2 separate regions of the Homo sapiens genome follow, and region 2 is linked to region 1. The links come from fine-mapping of genetic effects on gene expression. Tissue or cell type: whole blood. Region 1 holds a variant in brackets; the other region holds the start of a gene. All regions are shown on one strand. Distances are between the middles of the regions.

What was found.
Region 2: FOXN3 starts here. The variant in region 1 is fine-mapped to the expression of FOXN3 in whole blood (INTERVAL, PIP above 0.99).

The regions. Positions count from the first base shown.
Region 1 is chr14:89,364,426-89,368,655 of GRCh38, forward strand. All of the region lies in intron 2 of FOXN3 (forkhead box N3), which reads right to left. FOXN3-AS3 (FOXN3 antisense RNA 3) reads left to right here. Exons shown (of 2, transcript NR_188029.1): 2 at 1-583. Among named protein-coding and RNA genes, the nearest start is that of FOXN3-AS3, 16 kb to the left of the region's middle. RefSeq lists an enhancer at 1,040-1,089. The variant G/GA (reference allele first, on the strand shown) is at 1,835.
Region 2 is chr14:89,414,670-89,418,899 of GRCh38, forward strand. It overlaps FOXN3 (forkhead box N3), which reads right to left and starts at 2,564. Exons shown (of 6, transcript NM_005197.4): 1 at 2,202-2,564. FOXN3-AS1 (FOXN3 antisense RNA 1) reads left to right here and starts at 2,685. Exons shown (of 2, transcript NR_036500.1): 1 at 2,685-3,127. RefSeq lists enhancers at 1,416-1,710, 1,725-2,258, 2,259-2,791, 2,416-2,710 and silencers at 2,406-2,615, 2,656-2,945.

The DNA of each region.
Region 1 (4,230 bases):
TTTCTCAAGATCCTGGCCCCATGAGCCTCAGTGTAGCCCTAGTTCCTGGGATCAGCACCAACAGGCAGGGAGGAGAGGCTCTGGCGCCCTGCAGACAGCACCAGGTTCTTGGCATCAGGAGCTGGATACAGAGTCCCTGATAATCCCAGCCACAGAATATTTCAAACTCACCGACATGTCCTCTAAATATCAGATATGAAAAGGCTTCCACTCTTGCACCTGTCTTGCTATTATTTTACAGATGTGTTCTAAAAGCTATAAAGACGGAAATCACTATTAGTGTGTCACTTATGTGATATTCAGACACCTGAGCTCTGTGATGATTTTAATGCCCCACAGGTCTTTCAGAAATCCACCTCATATACCTCAGAACGCCCCTCCATCTGCAAGGGAACGCATGTGGAACAGGTGGAGAAGGAATTCTTTTAGGCCCATGGGTAGAATTGTAAGGACTCTTGTAAATGCTTCTTCTGTAGTAGAGAAGCTGGACGGTATGTGTGTGTGCTTATGCGTGTTTGAATGGACGCAGGAAAAATCAATAATCTGCTTGCATCAACACCTAAATAAAACCAAAATAATCCCATGATTTGCCTAAAACCAAATTAATCTCTAGGAAAAGCCTGCTGTGACAGAGTTGTGTGGGGGCGGGAATTACAAAAGAAACGCAGAATTTCCCCGAGCTTCCGCTTTGCAGGAATCTCTGTTCCGTTACTCACTATTTTGAGAGAGCCCTGCTTCTTCCTCCTTCTCCCCACCACACGTCAATGTCATTTTCACAGGGGGGAGGCTACAGGAAGCACACATCTGCAGTGTGTCACCTCCCGAGGCTGACAGATCTACTCAGTATTTGTTTGGGTTGAAAATAGTTATTTTTTTGTACTCTCTACACTATTGTTTCCCAAGTGCCAAAAGCAGTCAAGAGCTAGCACGCTAACAACGATCAATCATAAAATGATCATGAAAACATCCAAATTATATTGACTTTGAAATACTGTCAAACTCTACACTGCTAAGTTCTAATAAAGAAAAGGAAACAGAAACACACCCCTCATACTCCAAGTCAGAAGGCCAAAGAGGTGGCATCTTTAAAATCACTATCTAGCTAAATCGGTTTTATCCAACTAAATCTTAGGATCCTCCCAAATTAGTTTTACCACTCTGTCTTGGGAGGGCCTTTAGCAAATAAGGGTTTAACTCTTCTTCTCCATCTGAAACCTCATCGCATGACATAGGCTGACTAAAAAGGGTAGAGGCACAGAAGCATTTAAAAAAACTTCAAACACATGCAAAACACACAGGAAGCTAAAAAGCGGATCGTTTTATATACTTCTAATAGCTGCCATGCTATGCCACTTCAAAGAGTCAAACTATTACTCAAATGAACTCAATATATTATGTGGCATGAAGCCATAAACTCTCACGTACACACAAAGTACACATGGAGAGATTTTAAAATTTAACATGAAAGTTAAATAATTATTACAGAGAAACATAAAGTAACTAGAATAACTAACATAAAGTTATTCTGTAATAACTTTATTATAGGCCGAGCCCAGTGGCTCACGACTGTAATCCCAGCACTTTGGGAGGCCGAGGCGGGTGGATCACGAGGTCAGGAGATTGAGACCATCCTGGCTAACATGGTGAAACCCCGTCTCTACTGAAAAATACAAAAAAATTAGCCTGGTGTGGTGGCGGATGCCTGTAGTCCCAGCTACTCGGGAGGCTGAGGCAGGAGAATGGCATGAACCCGGGAGGCGGAGTTTGCAGTGAGCCGAGATTGCACCACTGCACTCCAGCCTGGGCGACAGAGCGAGACTCCGTCTCAAAAAAA[G/GA]AAAAAAAAAAAAACTTTATTATAGAAAAAAACATGCACATTTGAAAAGTTTTGTCTCCTGATAGGAAACAGGAATGTACAATGATGTGGTAAACTTGTCTGGAACGTGGGCATGTTCCTCTTTTTTTCTAACAGTTGTTTGTATCACACCCACAATCTTAAAGTCGAAATTGCATAAGCAAATTACAAAGAGGATAAATGGTAAAGTAAAAGACATACATTAAATTGCCCTCTTCGTGCCTTTTTTAAAAAAAAGTTTGAAAGGCAAGCTGACAGTGCTAGTAGGGATGAGGGGAAATAAAATTCACCACTCATTGCATTTACATAAATAATGTGTTTAAATACATAAATATTCATTTTTAAAGCTCAAGGCCTAGTAAAAGAATTTCTAAGCATATTGAATGAAGTGGAGGGGGCAGCTGACAGCCAGCTCTGACTTCAGGCTGCAACTGGGCGCGCACTCCTTCCAGTACCTCCACTTTCTTTAAGGTGATTTCCATGCTGCACACAGTAACAAACGAGTCAGGTTTTATGGACGGCAATAAAGGTAACGTGGGCCTGACACATGGATGCCCTTGGTTGGATTACAACTGGCCCACCTACTGCCACTTTATCTTCTGGTTGTCCGTAGTTACTCATCTATTTTTAAATGTTCCAATGTGATCTTATCAAATTGGCACATAATTTGATCACCATATTTCCATAACTGGAAGTTGTTCAAAGTACCTGGCCAGGTAACAGTGACAGGGTGTGTGTACTAAGCCAGAGAGCTTCAGTTATGATTTTTTTATTTTAATAAATAATCATGAGCCCTTCTCTCTCAGTGAAACACAGACACTGGGTTGTTTGGTGTTTGTTCTTGCGGAGTGGCCATTGGCCACGAGATCACCAGTCACCCATCTTCCCTAATTTTCAACAGGGAACTTTCCTGGGAGTTCCTGGGTTGTGAGCCTGGCTTTTAGCCACAGCATCCGGCCAACCAACACATCCACTTTTAAGGAGACACTGCCTCTACAGTGCCTCTCAATTCTAGAACAAGCACTCACTCCAACCATGAAGCAGATCCCTTTCAACAAAGGGTGTCTAACACCGACTGCACCCTGATGTGGCGGCACCCGGCTCCAAAGATAAATCCGAAACCATCTCCGACCCACATGTGAGAAGCTGCAGGGACCAAATAACATTGTCAGTGTTATCGATTCCTCCAGCGTTCTTGTCAGCGCTGGGTAAGATATGGACAAAGCACCCGGGAACCAGAGGATATGCCCGAGGTTGCCAGGGAGAGGACAGGGGTGCCAGGGAAAACTGCAGGTAAGAGGCTGCCAGACCAGTGCTCCAGCGGGAACACAGGGTCAGGGAGACAGAACGGGGGTTGGACGCAGGGGATAAATTCACACTGTGATTCACGGGTAGGGGGATGGAGGAAAAAATTAAACAAACAGAATCTACCCAGAAAGACCAACTGACCTGGCCCCTGGGAACAGTGGCAGCAACCACGTGGAAAAGGCACTGATGCCTGAGCTATCTGTCCCAGTGGCTGTCCAGAGAGCCAGGGCTCAGCAAGCCGGCCTCCTGCCCCAGAAACCCTCCCCTCGTCTCCCAGAGGCCTATGGTAGAGAATTTAAAAGGTAAATGACTCAACCCAAGCATCGTATCTTCCTCAATCCCAGCATCCCATGCTCCTCACCAATTATGTTCCTGTGAGATCAAAAGGTAGGAGCTGCTGACCTCGGCAGGTGTGTGTCTACCTCAGAAACTGCTGAGTTCTGCTATCAAAACGAATCCCAGGCCGGGCACAGTGGCTCACACCTGTAATCCCAACACTTTGGGAGGCCGAGGCGGGTGAATCACTTGAGGTCAGGAGTTCGAGACCAGCCTGACCAACATGGTGAAACCCCGTCTCTACTAAAAAAATACAAAATTAGCCAGGCATGGTGGCACATGCCTACAATCCCAGCTACTTGGGAGGCTGAGGCAGAAGAATCGCTTGAACCCAGGAGGCGGAGGTTGCAGTGAACCAAGATCACCCCATTGCACTCCAGCCTGGATAAAAAGAGTGAAACTCTGTCTCAAAAAAAAAAAAAAAGAACACCGAATCCCTGGCCAGGCACAGTGGCTCATACCTATAATCCCAGCACTTTGGGAGGCCAAGGAGGAAAGATCACTTGAGCCCAGGAGTTCAAGACCAGCCTGGGCAACATAGTGAAACCCAATCTCTAGAAAAAATGCGAAAAAATTAGCCAGGCCTGGTGGTACACGCCTGTAGTCCCAGCTACTCAGGAGGCTGAGATGGGAGGATCACCTGAGCCCAGGGAGGTCAAGGCTGCAGTGAGCCATGATTGTGCCACTGCACTCCGGCTTGGGTGACAGAGTGAGACCCTGTTTCAAACGCAAAC
Region 2 (4,230 bases), 50 kb after region 1:
CAGCCTCCCAAGTAGCTGGGACTACAGGCGTGTGCCACCATGACTGGTTAATTTTTGTATTTTTAGTAAGACGGGGTTTCACCATGTTGGCCAGGATGGTCTCAATCTCTTGATCTCGTGATCCACCCGCCTCGGCCTCCCAAAGTGCTGGGATTACAGGCGTGAGCCACCGCGCCTGGCCAAGATGCCCAACTCTTAAGGAGAGAAAACTTCATGAGGCATTGCAGTACAGACCAGGCAGGATGCTCCAGACGTCTTGGGTTCACTCACAGGGAATATTTCTTTCTGTCAAATAAGGAGGTTACCCTGACACATTTCAGACAAAAAACAAGCTAGCATCTTTTGGCTTGGGGATACAACAGAGTCTGGTCTGATCCTGCTTTTAACTTCTTTATGAACGAATTATAGCACCACTTGTCTTTCTTAAAGTTTCCTCAGATCCCATCAGAAAATTTTCTGATGACCAGCATATGCCCACAGTAGAGTATAAAACAGAACTACCCAGCCACTGAAGTCAACTTTAGCTCTAAATGAAAGTTTTATGTCTCCTGAGCTTCCAAACAGGAAAATTATATCATGGCTGACAGTAAAGTAATTTAATTGCACTGTTGCTATGACAACATGCTGCTCTCTTTCTTTTTAATTTGCTTATTTGTCAGTAGCTTCCCAGAGGAACTAACACGCTATTCTCCATGTTTCCTTTTGTTTTAAACAAACACTGCCAGCAATATGGTTTTAGGAGAAAAAGTGGCATTGTCACGAAGAGAGGGTTATGGGAGTTCAGTACCCTTGGATCATGTGTGCGTTTTGTGCTGGGACCCCGTACTCTCCAACCACTCACTGCATCCCTATAAATCCCGCATTTTATACCAACAGGGTGAAGAGCTGCTGATCACTACAGTTCCATGTAAAAACAAAACAAAACAACAATAACCAAAAAAAAAAAAAAAAAAAAAAAAAAACAGTTCCCAGAAACCACAGCTGAGGAGTTTTCCATTATTATACTCTAACTACAGATTTCGCCAAATCTTTTTTTCCTCCTGTTTCAGAGGGAAAAAAAAAGAATCTGGATCATGTGAGTTGCAGTTAAGCAAACATTTTTAATCTGCTGCCAACAAGGCTGCTCCACCAGATACGCAAATAGTTATTCACTGGTGACCTCCTTACAACTTTTCTCTACACACACACACACACACACACACACACACACACACCCTCTTTTGTTTTTTTTATGACTTGCTGTGTTTTGTTACCCTCTTTATTTTTTAACGGAGAAAATGCGGCAAGAAAGCTTAGTTTCTCGCCTAGTAAACAGAAGGTCTCCAAATAACTGACAAAGACATTACTGGCCCAGCTCTGAACAGATGTTCGATGCGAACTTTAAAAAGTTAAGAAATCTTCCCAGAGCCGAGCAGTAGCGAGTTTGGGGGGCCGGGTCACCCCCGCCCACCCAGCACGCGCGCGCGCGCACGCACGCGCTTCACTCTCGTCTACTGTACTTGTCAAAAACATTTCAAGGGGACCTGCGGGAGTGGCGATTGGCTGCACCCCGCGTCAATCAGCGGCGTTGCCGGGCAACGGGGGAAACTGCTCTTATCCCCATATACAGGGCAATTGGGAGCTCGCATACCTTCACTGCCGGTCAGATGTCATAAACCTTTTATTGGCCGCACCGCGGCGAGCCTCGAAAACAAATCAATAAAAGCCCGCCGTCCCCCAACTTATCCAGGGCCCAAGGAGGGTTTCAAACAGGGCCGGGATGAGGGGGGTCGGGCCTCGGGGGTCTCCGGAGACGTTCGTTGCCTGTGCCAAGTCTGCACAGTTTGGCCGGGGGGTGATCTTTGTTAGGAGCCTGTTTCTCATCTTGGGGTCTCCACTTGATCGGAACCCCCTCCCCGGCCCGGAACGGCGGGGACCCCGTCCTCCGCAGACAATACCAACTCTGTTCCTTGCGGGCGTCTTTTCGGAAACCGAGGCACCGGGAAGCAGCACGCACGTCGGGGCAGGAAACTCTTCGGACCCGGCAACTTCCCGGCTCGGGGGCTCCCGGGGTCCACACCCGACCCTCCCCCCAGGACCTGCGGGGTCCCTCGTCTTCCCAGAGCGGCGAGGTAGTCTCCAGGACCGTCTCGGACGCGCCTCCCGCCCCGGGTGCCCCCCGAGCCCACGCGGGAGCCGGCAGGAGCGGGGTGCAAACTCACCTGGCCGGAGCGGGGCACGGGGGTGCGGGGGCGCCGCTGCCCTTCAGCAGGAGCCGACAAACTTTCGCGGGCGCCCGGCGGGCATCGCTCGGTGGCCCCGCTAAGGACGCGCGGGCGCGGCGCGGCGAGCCCGGGGCGGCGGGCGGCGGGGGGCGGCCGCGGGCGCGGGCGGCAGGGGCGCGGGGGTCGCGGCGCGGCATGGGACCTGCGGCGTCCGCCGGGCGCGCCGCGCGTCCTCCCGCCGGCCCCGCCGCTCTCCCCGCCCCGTCCCGCCTCCCGCTCGCCTCCGCCGCGGCGCGTCGGGCCGGGGCGCGCCGAGCGGCGAGAAATTGTTTCCACTGCAAACAAAAAAAGGCGACACATGACCAGGCAGGAGGAGGGGAAGCGCGGGGAGGGAGGAGGGCGGAGGGAGGGACAGAGCGGAGGGCGGAGGGAGCCGGAGAAAGGGAAAACGTGGGCCTGGCCGCCAGCGGCCTGGGGCGCGGGGCACTGACCCGCCGGGGCGGACCCTGCCCGCGCCCCTCGCGCGCCCCAGCACTCAGCCAGGGCGGAGGCCGGGGCTGGGCCGCGCGGCCTCGCCTCTTGGGCCCCGCGGGGCGGGGGTGACCGGCGCGGGTCCCGCGACCCAGGGCGGCCGCGACCGTGGGCGGTGGGGCAGGTGGGTCAGGCGGCGCGTGCCCTGTCCCCTCCCCGGGCTCCGGCCACACGAGCGGGCCGGCGCTGCGCTGCTGGCAACGTGTCGCGGGAACGCTCCTACCCCATCTGCATGCCTTACATGGCTCGAAAGTAAAAATAAAAAGAATTACGATGCGGGCGAGGCTTGTGGGGGTGAGAAGAGGAGATTCCACGTCTCCCCAGTGCTGCGTCCTGATAGGACCCCCAGGGCCTTCCGAGCCCTCTCCCAGCGACCACCTCGTGTCCCGGAGGTAAGCACCGCAGCGTCCCACCCAGGTGGCCGCGTGTCTCCCGAGGGAGGGCCGGTGGCCATTACAAGACAAGAGGCACCGTCCTAAAGGCCACGCCGGTGGGGCCTCTCAAGTGGGTTGTGCGGAACGCCCCGGCCGGCCTAGAGAGAAAACAGGTCTCATTTCCATCTCAGTTTGAGCTCTCAGGAACCAGACTGACAATTCGCAAGCCACCCAGCGAAATGGTGCAGCCACCACTCTAAGTCTCTAGGCACCTCCAAATAATAGCACCCACTGCTAAAGCCACACCAACCAGCCGCCTTGGGAGAGGATGAGAGGAGAGAGTCCAACAGGACACCCTGGTGGTGACAAAAATAAAAATGTGATTGCACATTACTCCCAGGTAGCCAAATTGGTTGGTTCCTCTACAGAGGAGAAGCCCAGGGCACCCTTCCTGCCACCCCCTCCTGAGCCAGTGGACAGGACATCGTGAGCGGTCTGAAAACTACAGAAAAAAACAGCGAGTAGACCTGGAGAAAGCTTTCTAGCATGCAGTACTTTTAAACCTAGCCAAAAGGAGGGACTAAGGGAAACACCAGTTAGGCTTCTGAAAATTTTTTCTGTCTCAAAAAATAGACCCCCCCCCCCCAATCTGAGAGTCATTCCCCCTAACAAAGGTTCAAGAGGGCAGGTGACAAGTCTTCAGCAAAGATGTGCCTTTCAGACTCACCGGAGACCTTACTACTTCCAAGTTGTGTGGCATCTCCCCATCTGGAGACAATTAGGAGGTGGAAGCCCAGGGGTAGCCTGAGGTCATCCAGCCCCACCCCTTTGATTACTGAGCACTTGATGCGACCTACCCAAAGTCACTAAGCAAAAGGCACAAGGTGGCAGAGACAAGTCAGATGATCTTTGAAGTCTCACGCCAGAGATTCTCAGGGTTAGAAGTGGTAACAAAGCCAGGATGAGACAATGTGTACCCTGCTTTCCTGTAGCTCCGGCTAATGCAGGTCCTGCCCCTCCATCAGCGCGTCAGTTGAGGGTGCTTATTCTCCGCCAGAGGAACCAAGGCCAGAGACCTTTGTCCAAGCCCTTGCTGGCCTAGAGAGGACGAAGTCGCCCCC